3 linked regions of the Homo sapiens genome follow. The protein of the gene in region 3 interacts with the protein of the main gene of each other region in a biochemical or structural test. Each region holds a gene or a part of one and is shown on either strand. Other genes may lie near its edges. The genes, in order: ICAM1, PRKCE and ITGB2.

Region 1 (3,751 bases), on a different chromosome or scaffold from region 3:
GTCTTGAACTCCTGGGCTCAAGTGATCCTCCCATCTCGGCCTCCCAAAATGCTGGGATTACAGGTGGGAGCCGCGCCCAGGTGGATTTTTGTCTGACTCTGTTCATTCCTGTGTCCCCAGTACCTGGAAGGACGCCAAGCACACAGTAGGCGCTTAAAAAACATTGAGCCACATGTTGAGAAAAGAACGGCACCATTGTGGCTGCAAGTGGGACTTGGGCCGCGCGGGGGAGCTCGCGCACCTCGGGCCGGGGCAAGAGCTCAGTGGAACCCGCCCGAGGAAGAACCCGTGGCGCAGGATTTTCCCAGGCCTTCTGAGGACCAGGGGCGTCCCCCGTCCCACCCTGTGACTTTGCTCAGGCCGTTCCGGGGCGGGAATTCAGAACTCCTCAGCCCCCCAAGAAAAAAATATCCCCGTGGAAATTCCTTGGGAATGACCGAGGCGGGGGAAATATGCGTCTCTGGATGGCCAGTGACTCGCAGCCCCCTTCCCCGATAGGAAGGGCCTGCGCGTCCGGGGACCCTTCGCTTCCCCTTCTGCTGCGCGACCTCCCTGGCCCCTCGGAGATCTCCATGGCGACGCCGCGCGCGCCCCACAACAGGAAAGCCTTAGGCGGCGCGGCTTGGTGCTCGGAGACTTAAGAGTACCCAGCCTCGACGTGGTGGATGTCGAGTCTTGGGGTCACACGCACAGGCGGTGGCCAAGCAAACACCCGCTCATATTTAGTGCATGAGCCTGGGTTCGAGTTGCCGGAGCCTCGCGCGTAGGGCAGGGGTTCGAGCGCCCCTTCTCCCTGCCTCGCCTCTGCGCCTGGGGGCTGCTGCCTCAGTTTCCCAGCGACAGGCAGGGATTTCGAGCGTCCCCCTCCCCTCCCTCGTCAAGATCCAAGCTAGCTGCCTCAGTTTCCCCGCGGAGCCTGGGACGCCAGCGGAGGGGCTCGGCGCGTAGGGATCACGCAGCTTCCTTCCTTTTTCTGGGAGCTGTAAAGACGCCTCCGCGGCCAAGGCCGAAAGGGGAAGCGAGGAGGCCGCCGGGGTGAGTGCCCTCGGGTGTAGAGAGAGGACGCCGATTTCCCCGGACGTGGTGAGACCGCGCTTCGTCACTCCCACGGTTAGCGGTCGCCGGGAGGTGCCTGGCTCTGCTCTGGCCGCTTCTCGAGAAATGCCCGTGTCAGCTAGGTGTGGACGTGACCTAGGGGGAGGGGCATCCCTCAGTGGAGGGAGCCCGGGGAGGATTCCTGGGCCCCCACCCAGGCAGGGGGCTCATCCACTCGATTAAAGAGGCCTGCGTAAGCTGGAGAGGGAGGACTTGAGTTCGGACCCCCTCGCAGCCTGGAGTCTCAGTTTACCGCTTTGTGAAATGGACACAATAACAGTCTCCACTCTCCGGGGAAGTTGGCAGTATTTAAAAGTACTTAATAAACCGCTTAGCGCGGTGTAGACCGTGATTCAAGCTTAGCCTGGCCGGGAAACGGGAGGCGTGGAGGCCGGGAGCAGCCCCCGGGGTCATCGCCCTGCCACCGCCGCCCGATTGCTTTAGCTTGGAAATTCCGGAGCTGAAGCGGCCAGCGAGGGAGGATGACCCTCTCGGCCCGGGCACCCTGTCAGTCCGGAAATAACTGCAGCATTTGTTCCGGAGGGGAAGGCGCGAGGTTTCCGGGAAAGCAGCACCGCCCCTTGGCCCCCAGGTGGCTAGCGCTATAAAGGATCACGCGCCCCAGTCGACGCTGAGCTCCTCTGCTACTCAGAGTTGCAACCTCAGCCTCGCTATGGCTCCCAGCAGCCCCCGGCCCGCGCTGCCCGCACTCCTGGTCCTGCTCGGGGCTCTGTTCCCAGGTGAGTCGGGGTGGGGATTGCCGTCGGGCCAGTTCTCCGAAGCCCCGGGAGGACCGGCTCCCGGGTCAGGTCATGCATGCTTAGGTAGCTGTTTATGGGAAGGAGGGGCTAGAGACAGCGATTGAAAGGCAACAGCCAGTAGGTTCGAATCCAGACCCTGCATACCTCCACGTGTGGCCTTGGGCTATAGATTGCAGCTTTAAAAAAGGGTAGGGGGTTGGAGATGGAGGGGAGGGGCGGGCCTCGTTTTGTTGCCCAGGCCGGTCTTGAACTCCGGGGGTCTAGCCTTACCTCCTGCCTCAGCCTCCCGAGTAGCTGGGATGAGAGGTGTGAACCACCGCCTTGCTTGGCTAGATTGCGTCTCTTACAGTTTCTCAGCTGTAAAACGGGAAACGTTATAGCGGCCACCTGGCAGGGTATCTTGGCCCAGCGCAGCACCTGGCCCCAGGACTCGATCATGATGGTTTGGGAACTTGGCTCTGTGCCAACCCAACAAGGCTTAAGGGACCCCCACCCCCCTCAAGATGTATATTCTGTTCCTCATCCTCTCTGCCCCTGGGGAAGTCCAGGGCTGCTTCTACTTGGGGGAATTCCAGAGCTGACTTATCCGTGGCCCAAAGCTGAGAAGTGGGACGCCCCAGCACACCCTCCCCCAGCTCCAGCCCAGCTAGGGAAGAGGGAAGGGGTCAGAGGGTCTTTCATGGTGGTGTAAGTTTGGGGAACCAGGAGGGTGGGAGATTGACAGCTTGGTTAACAGCTCAACAAAGCCTGAGATCCAGGCCAGCACGGTAGTTCATGCCAGTAATCCCAACACTTTAGGAGCCCCAGGCGGGCGAATCACTTAAGGTCAGGAGTTTGAGACCAGCCTGGCCAACATGGCAACATCCCGTCTCTACTAAAAATACAAAAATTAGCTGGCATGGTGGTGGGCGCCTGTGATCCCAGCTGCTCGGGAGGCTGAGGGAGGAAAATCCCTTAAGCCCACGAGGCTGAGGTTGCAGTGAACCAAGATTGTGCCACTGCACTCCAGCCTGGGAGACATAGCGAGATTCTGTCTCAAAAAACAAAGCGTTCTGATCCGGACTCAGACCCAGATCGCACTGCTTTCTAGCTGAGTAACCATTTCTCTCTATGAAATGGGAATGGTCCCAGAATCTCCCTTGGAGAATGTATGGAGCCAGTGTCCTCACACCCCCATCCAAGATAGAACAAATCTGAGACAGGAATCTTTGAGTGAGGCAGTGCTGGGCTCAGACATTTTTTCCCACCTTCGGAGGCAGCAGAATCTGAGGGACCTGATCCAAATAAGCCCCTTCTTTCTTTCTTTTCTTTTCTTTTTTTTTTTTTTTTTTTTTTGAGACGGAGTCTCACTCTGTCGCCCAGGCTGGAGTGCAGTGGCGTGATCTCGGCTCACTGCAACCTCTGCCTCCCAGGTTCAAACGATTCTCCTGCCTCAGCCTCCCTGAGTAGCTGGGACTACAGGCATGTGCCATCACACCCGGCTAATCACTGTGTTAGCCAGGATGGTCTCGATTTCCTGACCTCATGATCTGCCCACCCTGCCTCCCAAAGTGCTGGGATTACATGCGTGAGCCACAGTGCCCACCCCGTAAGCCCCTTCTTTCTTACCTGCAAGGTAGCCAGTTGCTACCCATCCTGTGCTGAGTTACTTGTATTAGCAAGGGATGGGGTGGCTATACTCACCCACCTTACAGATGGGGAAATTGAGGCCCAAAGAGGGGGAAACTACGTGTCTCAGGGAGTGAGGAGCCAGTCTGATTCCTGGAGGGCTGACTGTCTCCACCTGACTTCTTAGGAGGGAGGAGGGCACCAACTTCACATTAAAATCTGGTTGGACACAGTGGCTCACACCTGTAATCCTGGCATTTTGGGAGGCTTAGGCGGGAGGATCACTT
Region 2 (3,751 bases), on a different chromosome or scaffold from region 3:
CAGCCTTCTCATTTTGGGTGGCATCTTTTGTAAGATTCCTTTTAGGCTTGGCTCTAATTATCTGCTTCCTAATTAACTGTCGGCAGTGGATCTGGGCAGAAGGGCAAGGCTTCCATGTCACGGGAAGTCACCTGGAGCCAACCCCTCAAGTGCGTCAGAGCTCGGGAGAAGGGAGAAGGGAGAAGGCATTGGCCCTGATGATGCTATTACCAAAGGCTGGTGGCCACTTCCTGGGAAGCAGGGGCTGGGAGTGGGAAAGCAGAGGGGGTGCCATGGGGCATATCATGTGGCAGGAAGATAAGCCTTGGGGCAGACCTCATGCCTCCAAAGCTGTCTCTGGTTTTGAGGTTAGCTCAGCACCTTACCACCTCTCCCATTTGAATGGAGGCTTCTGCTTTCTCAAGCATTTCCATGCTCTAATCTCATTAGATTCTCAAAGCAGCTTGATGAGGTAGGTAGGGAAGGAGTTATGGCTCCCATGTGAAAGATGAGAAACCTGAGACTCAAAAACATTTTGTGACTTCATCAAGTCATCAAATGCTCATGTGTACATTTGTGGTCAAATCTGGACTCAAGACTCAATTCTCAGGATTGCGTTTCCTATCCCATCACACAACCCAACAATGATGATAACCATGAAGCCACCATTTAGCCAGCACTCCCTGTGGGCTGGGCACTGGGCTAATGCTTTAGAGGCATAATCTCATTTAATCTTCCCAGTAGCCCTCGATGAAGGCAGCAATACCTTTATCAGCTGTAATTTGCCTACAGCAAGACCAGGGATTGTCATTGCCAGTGCAGAGATGTTTCTGCACGGTGGGCACGAAGGCCAGAGCAGGAAGGAAGAGTGTCTGTGCTTCATTGTGAACAGAGATCAGAGTTGTTCATTGTGAGTCTCACCAATGGACTGCTTTTCATGAAAGCTGAGTGGCTATTTTGTTCATTATAAAGTGAATGTTCTGTCTTGGGTTGGGTCCTTAACTATAACATGGGCTGTCAACTGTTAGGCTCTGGCATCAACTTACAGAGGAACTGGAACTGAGTATTCTGACAATGAAGAATGAATGATGGCATCAACTTAGAGAGGAACTGGAACTAAGTATTCTGACAATGAAGAATGAACGAAGAACACGAGAAAAGCAGTTCCCTGTCGAAAGCTCTTGCTTTCATTTGTTGCTCCTTGAAGGCTGAATTCCTAGTGTTCTTGCTAAGGAAATACATTTGCAGAAAGACTGAAATCCCTACTCTTTAGATCTCTTAGAAGATAAAGGTTCTAAAGGGAAACTACCTATTACTCATCACCTTCACTTCGAGATGTTCCTCAGGCCTCCCCTGTCTTGTGTGGTCTGTGAAGCCTCCTGACCATCAGTCCCTCACTCCCTGCCTTCTGATCTGCACAGCTGTGGCCTTCCTTCTTCCTGGGATGGATCTGACTAGGACTCTCCTCCACTGAAACCCTGAGTGGGTCCACAGATCCTACAGGATCAAAGCCACATTCACTGGGTCTTTATCCCAATCTCATTCATTACTATGAGCACCAGGAAACCCTATGATCTAGCTACACTTTTTAACTGTCCTGGAAAAGACCAAGATGTTTTTGTCCCTTGGCCTTTGCTCATGTTGGAATGTCATAAGTTGTCATTTTTTAACAAACCTTTCTAAGATCCTGATTTGTGTGCCGGATCCTGGCAGTACCCAGATTAGAAACACAGACCCTGCCCTCAAAGGATCCAGGGCCCAGGGACACTGAACCTCCTTTCCTGTCCTGCCCCCGTTCCAATCCTGTTGTTTTCAGGAATACCCTCCCCACCCCTTCCGTCAAAGGAAATCCTCATTCTTTACAACTCAATTCATCCACCAGGTGCTCCAAGAAGCCTTTCCTGATCCCTGAGGATACCATCTTCTTTTATGTGCCTATTTATTCTGCTTAATTAGTTGTTTACTTATCTATCACTCCCTTTAGACCAAAAGCTTCTTTAGAATAGGGACAAGTGTCTCAGTCAGTTCTTTATCTCCACATTGCTTTGTGCCTAGCACGTGCTCAAACAATGCCCACTGAAAGAAATGAGCTCTGAATGTGCTAATACCTATCCGCCATGGGCGATGTTTAGTGGGGATTGGTACTTCTTTCCTATCTTACATGTCTCAGAACCATGAAGATCATTTTGATTGTCTATGACAGGCCATGTCTTAAATCTGAATCACATCACACTAGTTATCTCTCAGTTTGGGCAGGAATAAGGCAAACAAACACTTCATGCTGAGCAAAACATCCCAAACAACTTTCAGGAAAGGCAACCTATTGGAGTGGTTCACAGTGAACATCTCTGATATCTGTATATAATGAGGCACAGTCACTCTCCTCTTCCTGCTCCATCCTGTGTACTCACAGCATAGAACTGCCACTATGCAGGAAATAGCAAACAGTTCCTAGTTTTACTGTTAGCAAATTGTAGCTGATAAAGTGAAGTGCTCCCATGATCAATGATGCTCCTTTATTCTGATTTTATTTTTTACTTTTTTTTTTATTGAGACAGGGTCTTGCTCTGTCACCCAGGCTGGAGTGCAATGGTGCAATTATGGCTCACTATAGCCTCAACCTTCTGGGCTCAATTGATCCTTTCACCTCAGCCTCCCAAGTAGCTGGGACTACAGGTTTGCACCACTATGCCTGGCTAATTTTTGTATTTTTTATATAGACAGGGTTTCACCATGTTGCCCCGGCTGGTCTTGAACTCCTGGGCTCAAGCGATCTACCTGCCTTGGCCTCCCAAAGTGCTGGGATTACAGATGTGAGTCACTGTGCCCACCCTGTTCTGATTTTAAAGACATGAAAACAATAATAAAAGTCAACACGTTTTTCTTGGTCCTAGATTTATTGGTGGTTCTGGACTAGGATGGGAAAGAGATGTTCAGTGTGAACTTGCCCGGGTTTGGGAAATAGCCTGTTACTCTCATTTCACTCATCATCTCCCCAACACTAGGACTTCTTGACAGACATCAATCAGCAAACTTTTTTCCTTTCCTTTTCTCCCTCCTTCCTAGAATCCATCCTGGATTTCCAGAGCCTTCCCCCAGCACCACTAGATGACCCCAGTGCATGGGTTTGGACCCCTGCCTCGGTCCTGGCACCAGGAGGAGGTGAACCTTTGCACACAGGTCTTACCTCAGGAGCTATGTAGTCAGGAGTCCCACAGAACGTGGTGGTCGTCACACCATTCAGAATCCCTTCCTTGCACATCCCGAAGTCAGCCAGCTTGCAGTGACCTTCTGCATCCAGAAGGATGTTGTCCAGTTTCAAATCCCTGCAAGATAGGCCAGGACCATAATGTCAATACGTCACTCACCCCAATATAGTCTTCCTGAGTTGGAGGTATGTGCCTATCTTAGGGAAATCTCCAGCAAAAAAGTCCTGAAAGAAGCTTGTGTTTCTTGAAACCCATCTCAGTCCAGGGGCTCTCTCTCATGTTAGTCAGCCCCTAACGGCACCTCCACTTTCTTCAGCAAGAGGGAGGAACTTCTGTAACCCCAGGAATATATCAAGACTGCTGTGGTTTAATAGAGCTAAGTCAGTAGGTATATATAGAAGCCCTGCTATGCACCCACATTCATATTAATGAGATCCTGCTATGAAAGAAAGAAGCATCTACCCCTGTCCCTCATGAACTAACCATGGGGATCAGCTGGGGTTCCCAGCATGACACATAGGGACATCAACGAAACGGTTAAAACCACCTAAGAGTCAGGCACT
Region 3 (3,751 bases):
ACAGCTACACAACCGCACGTGTGACTGAGACGCGGGCGAGCGGAAGTCCAGGGCTGGGATGGAGAAAGGGGCCTCCTGGGGACGGCCCGCGTGGGCCTTGCTGGGAAGTGCCAGGTTCGTGTGATGCCTGTCTATGTGGCTGCTGATGAGGGCGCCCGTGGGACTGCAGGCATGGGGCCGGGTTAGGTGTGAGCCCAGGTGAGCCGCTGCCACTCTCAATGAAAGGCGTCCCCAATGTCGCTGGCGTCAACTCTAAGCACCCCAGGCGGGTTTCAGTGTCACTGCGAGGCACATGCCTGCGTCCGGGAGTCATGTCCTTCCTCTGAAACTCCAGCCTGCCTGGATGTCCTGTGTCTGGTCCTCAGCTCTCCTGCCAGGCGGGGAGAGGGGAGGTCAGGAGGATTTGGGGGCTGGAGGAGAGGGTGCCAGTGCACAGCCCGCTCGGGGCCACACGCCCCCAGACACCCTGTGTGAGATGTGAGGTGTGGCTCCTTTTGTTCTGTCCCCACCGGCAGGCCAGGCAGCAGCGTTCAACGTGACCTTCCGGCGGGCCAAGGGCTACCCCATCGACCTGTACTATCTGATGGACCTCTCCTACTCCATGCTTGATGACCTCAGGAATGTCAAGAAGCTAGGTGGCGACCTGCTCCGGGCCCTCAACGAGATCACCGAGTCCGGCCGCATTGGTGAGGCCCAGGCACTGCAGGACAAAACCCAGTCCTTTCCCAGACCCTGGCCACTCCTGCCTGTGGCCCACACAACTCCTCGCACTCAGGTCCCCAGGGTAGATCTGGGGGCCCCAGATGCAGGTCCCCCCAGGGCATCCACAGGGCTGCAGTCGGCCTGCCTCCCTGCCAGGGGCCACACCCAGTCCCTGGCTCCCCAACACTTGTAGACATTGTCCAGCCCTCCACTTCCCCTTCCATCTTCTACTTCCTTTATTTATTTCTTGGTATGTTTAAAAGACAAAATTCTGACAGTGCCAATTATTAAACATTAAAGACCACAACACATATAGACGGCACAGCGACGGCAGCACTGAAGAAACCACACAGCAAGCTCTGCTGGGCCAAGGGCTCCGCTCTACACCAGCACTGCCTTGCCACAGAGCAGGTCTCCAGCACACGTGTGTGTCAGTCACAGCGCATGTCTTCCCCGCCGGCCGTGGCTTCTCACATCGGCACTCTGCCACCTTCCCTACATGCGGGGATGCACACATGCACGATAACACACACACACACAAGCAAATGCATGCTCACACAAATGCACGCTCACACACAAATGCACGCTCATGCACGTGAATGCACGCTCACACACAAATGCATGTTCACACATGCAATGCACACTCACACACAAATGCATGCTCAAACGCAAATGCACGCTCACACATGCGAATGCACACTCACACATGAATGTATCCTCACATGCACAAATGGATGCTCACACACGCGAATGCATGCTCACACACAAAAGCACACCCAAACTCAAATGCACACACACGTGAATGCATGCTCACACACGTGAATGTATGCTCACACACATGCTCAAACACACAAATGCATGCTCTCACATGTGAATGTATGCTCACACATGAATGTATGCTCACACGCAAATGCATGCTCACACACGCGAATGTATGCTCACATGCACAAATGCACGCTCACACACGTGAATGCACGCTCACACACAAATGCATGCTCACACACATGAATGCATGCTCACACTTGCATGTGCACACACATGCACACACAGTCATACACACGTGCAAGACCACATGTGCACACAGACATGCTCACATGCACACTCATGATCACCCATGTATGTCTTCACTCACATGTATAAATCGTACATAAACACACATGCCCACATATGTACCTGGTCACCTACGTGAACTAGGTGTGTCCATACCTGAACATGCTCACATGCATACAGGAATACGTGCACACACAGTTGTGCTACGCATGTACACACTCATGTTTACACATGCAGATGGCTGCACACACAGATACACATACGCACCTGTTCACATGCCCACATGTATACCTGGTCACACACATACATGCAGGAACACACATGCATACACTTATGCTCATCCATGTACATTGCACACTCCCAGGTTCACACACACGCCCACATACGTTCACATGTGTGCTTGCACAACGCACATGCTCACACACACACTCCACATGTGCCATCTTGCTTTCTCCACCTCCCTGCTAGGAGAGAGGAAACAGGCTTGCCCTCGTGCCCCTTTGAAGCTGGCCCTCCCACCTGGGCCCAGCCTGCCACCTCCCCAGCCCCTCCATGTGCCCTGCAGGCTTCGGGTCCTTCGTGGACAAGACCGTGCTGCCGTTCGTGAACACGCACCCTGATAAGCTGCGAAACCCATGCCCCAACAAGGAGAAAGAGTGCCAGCCCCCGTTTGCCTTCAGGCACGTGCTGAAGCTGACCAACAACTCCAACCAGTTTCAGACCGAGGTCGGGAAGCAGCTGATTTCCGGAAACCTGGATGCACCCGAGGGTGGGCTGGACGCCATGATGCAGGTCGCCGCCTGCCCGGTGAGGCCGCTGCCCCTGCTTGGGTCCCCACGTTCCCCCAGTGTGGGGGGCTCTGTCAGGCGCTGTGTGGGGGCAGGGGGGTACCCTGGCCGGCAGGTCGTCTGAGGGACTCCAGCCTGGGCCTGGGGAGAGCAGCTCCTCACCCTGCTGCTGCCCATGCAGGAAAGGGCAGGAGGAAGGGAGGGTGACCACGAGGGCTCGAAAATCATGCGCTGATTTCATTGTTTGCTGTGAGTTAAATTTGTGACCCTGGGCAAACCTTATGAAGCCTAAACATTTTGCGAGCGGCCAAGGGTGGAACAGGGCCGCTAGGCAGCAGGTCCCGTGGTTCCTGGGGTGGAACCACCCTCCTCCCTCCAGGCCGGGTGGGCGCTGGCTGCCCAGTGTGTGTCGCTCTCCACGTCCCGCCCACCCAGTTTGTGACTGTCAGCCTAACAGAGCAGCCACAGTCCCTGGGCCATGTTGAGGCCACATGCACTGTCCTCCCCTCACAACCCACCTTAGCTCTCCTGCTTCCCTGCAGTCCCAGCGCAGACACACTGCTCACGAGTGTGAGGTCACAGCCTAGGACACGCACGGCCCCCACATGCGCCTGCCAGGGGCTGTCAATGGTGGACTCAAGGCCTGCTGGGCCCCTCAGGCTCGTTTTCCTCCATGTTGCACTCGTTCTGCGTGTGGCCCACACGTCTGCGAGGGTTTTTCCCCTTGGGGATGGTTTCCTGAGGGTTTGTTCCCAGCTCTGAAGTGCAGGGACCGCAGCCGTGTCTCTCTCCTTGCCTTTCCACACGTGCCTCCACTCCCTGCGCCTCACATGTGCACGGGGTGTTTGAGGGCCGTTGTCTCCTCCTGGGCGTGGCGTCTGGGGGAACACAGCTGGGTCCCTGAGACCCAGGGGAAAGGGGGACCCACACCAGCCTCCGGGCCACCCCACCAGCTCTGCATCGTCTCCTCTGCTCCAGAGGGCCGGGTCTGGGAAACTGAGGCAGGTAACCCTGCCCCCCACGCCTTCTTCTCAGGAGGAAATCGGCTGGCGCAACGTCACGCGGCTGCTGGTGTTTGCCACTGATGACGGCTTCCATTTCGCGGGCGACGGGAAGCTGGGCGCCATCCTGACCCCCAACGACGGCCGCTGTCACCTGGAGGACAACTTGTACAAGAGGAGCAACGAATTCGTAAGTCCCCACCCCAGGCA

The links.
Region 1: the proteins of ITGB2 (region 3) and ICAM1 form a complex in vitro, tested with the Homo sapiens proteins (4 studies listed by BioGRID).
Region 2: of the proteins of ITGB2 (region 3) and PRKCE, one has a biochemical effect on the other in vitro, tested with the Homo sapiens proteins (one study listed by BioGRID).

The regions. Positions count from the first base shown.
Region 1 is NC_000019.10:10,269,392-10,273,142, forward strand, and holds the start of ICAM1 (intercellular adhesion molecule 1 precursor), read left to right. Parts: upstream 1-1,728; 5' UTR 1,729-1,768; coding exon 1,769-1,835; intron 1,836-3,751. UniProt on the Homo sapiens protein: ICAM proteins are ligands for the leukocyte adhesion protein LFA-1 (integrin alpha-L/beta-2).
Region 2 is NC_000002.12:46,144,647-46,148,397, reverse strand, and holds part of PRKCE (protein kinase C epsilon type), read right to left. Parts: intron 3,306-3,751; coding exon 3,167-3,305; intron 1-3,166.
Region 3 is NC_000021.9:44,900,300-44,904,050, reverse strand, and holds part of ITGB2 (integrin beta-2 isoform 1 precursor), read left to right. Parts: intron 1-515; coding exon 516-686; intron 687-2,317; coding exon 2,318-2,559; intron 2,560-3,575; coding exon 3,576-3,731; intron 3,732-3,751.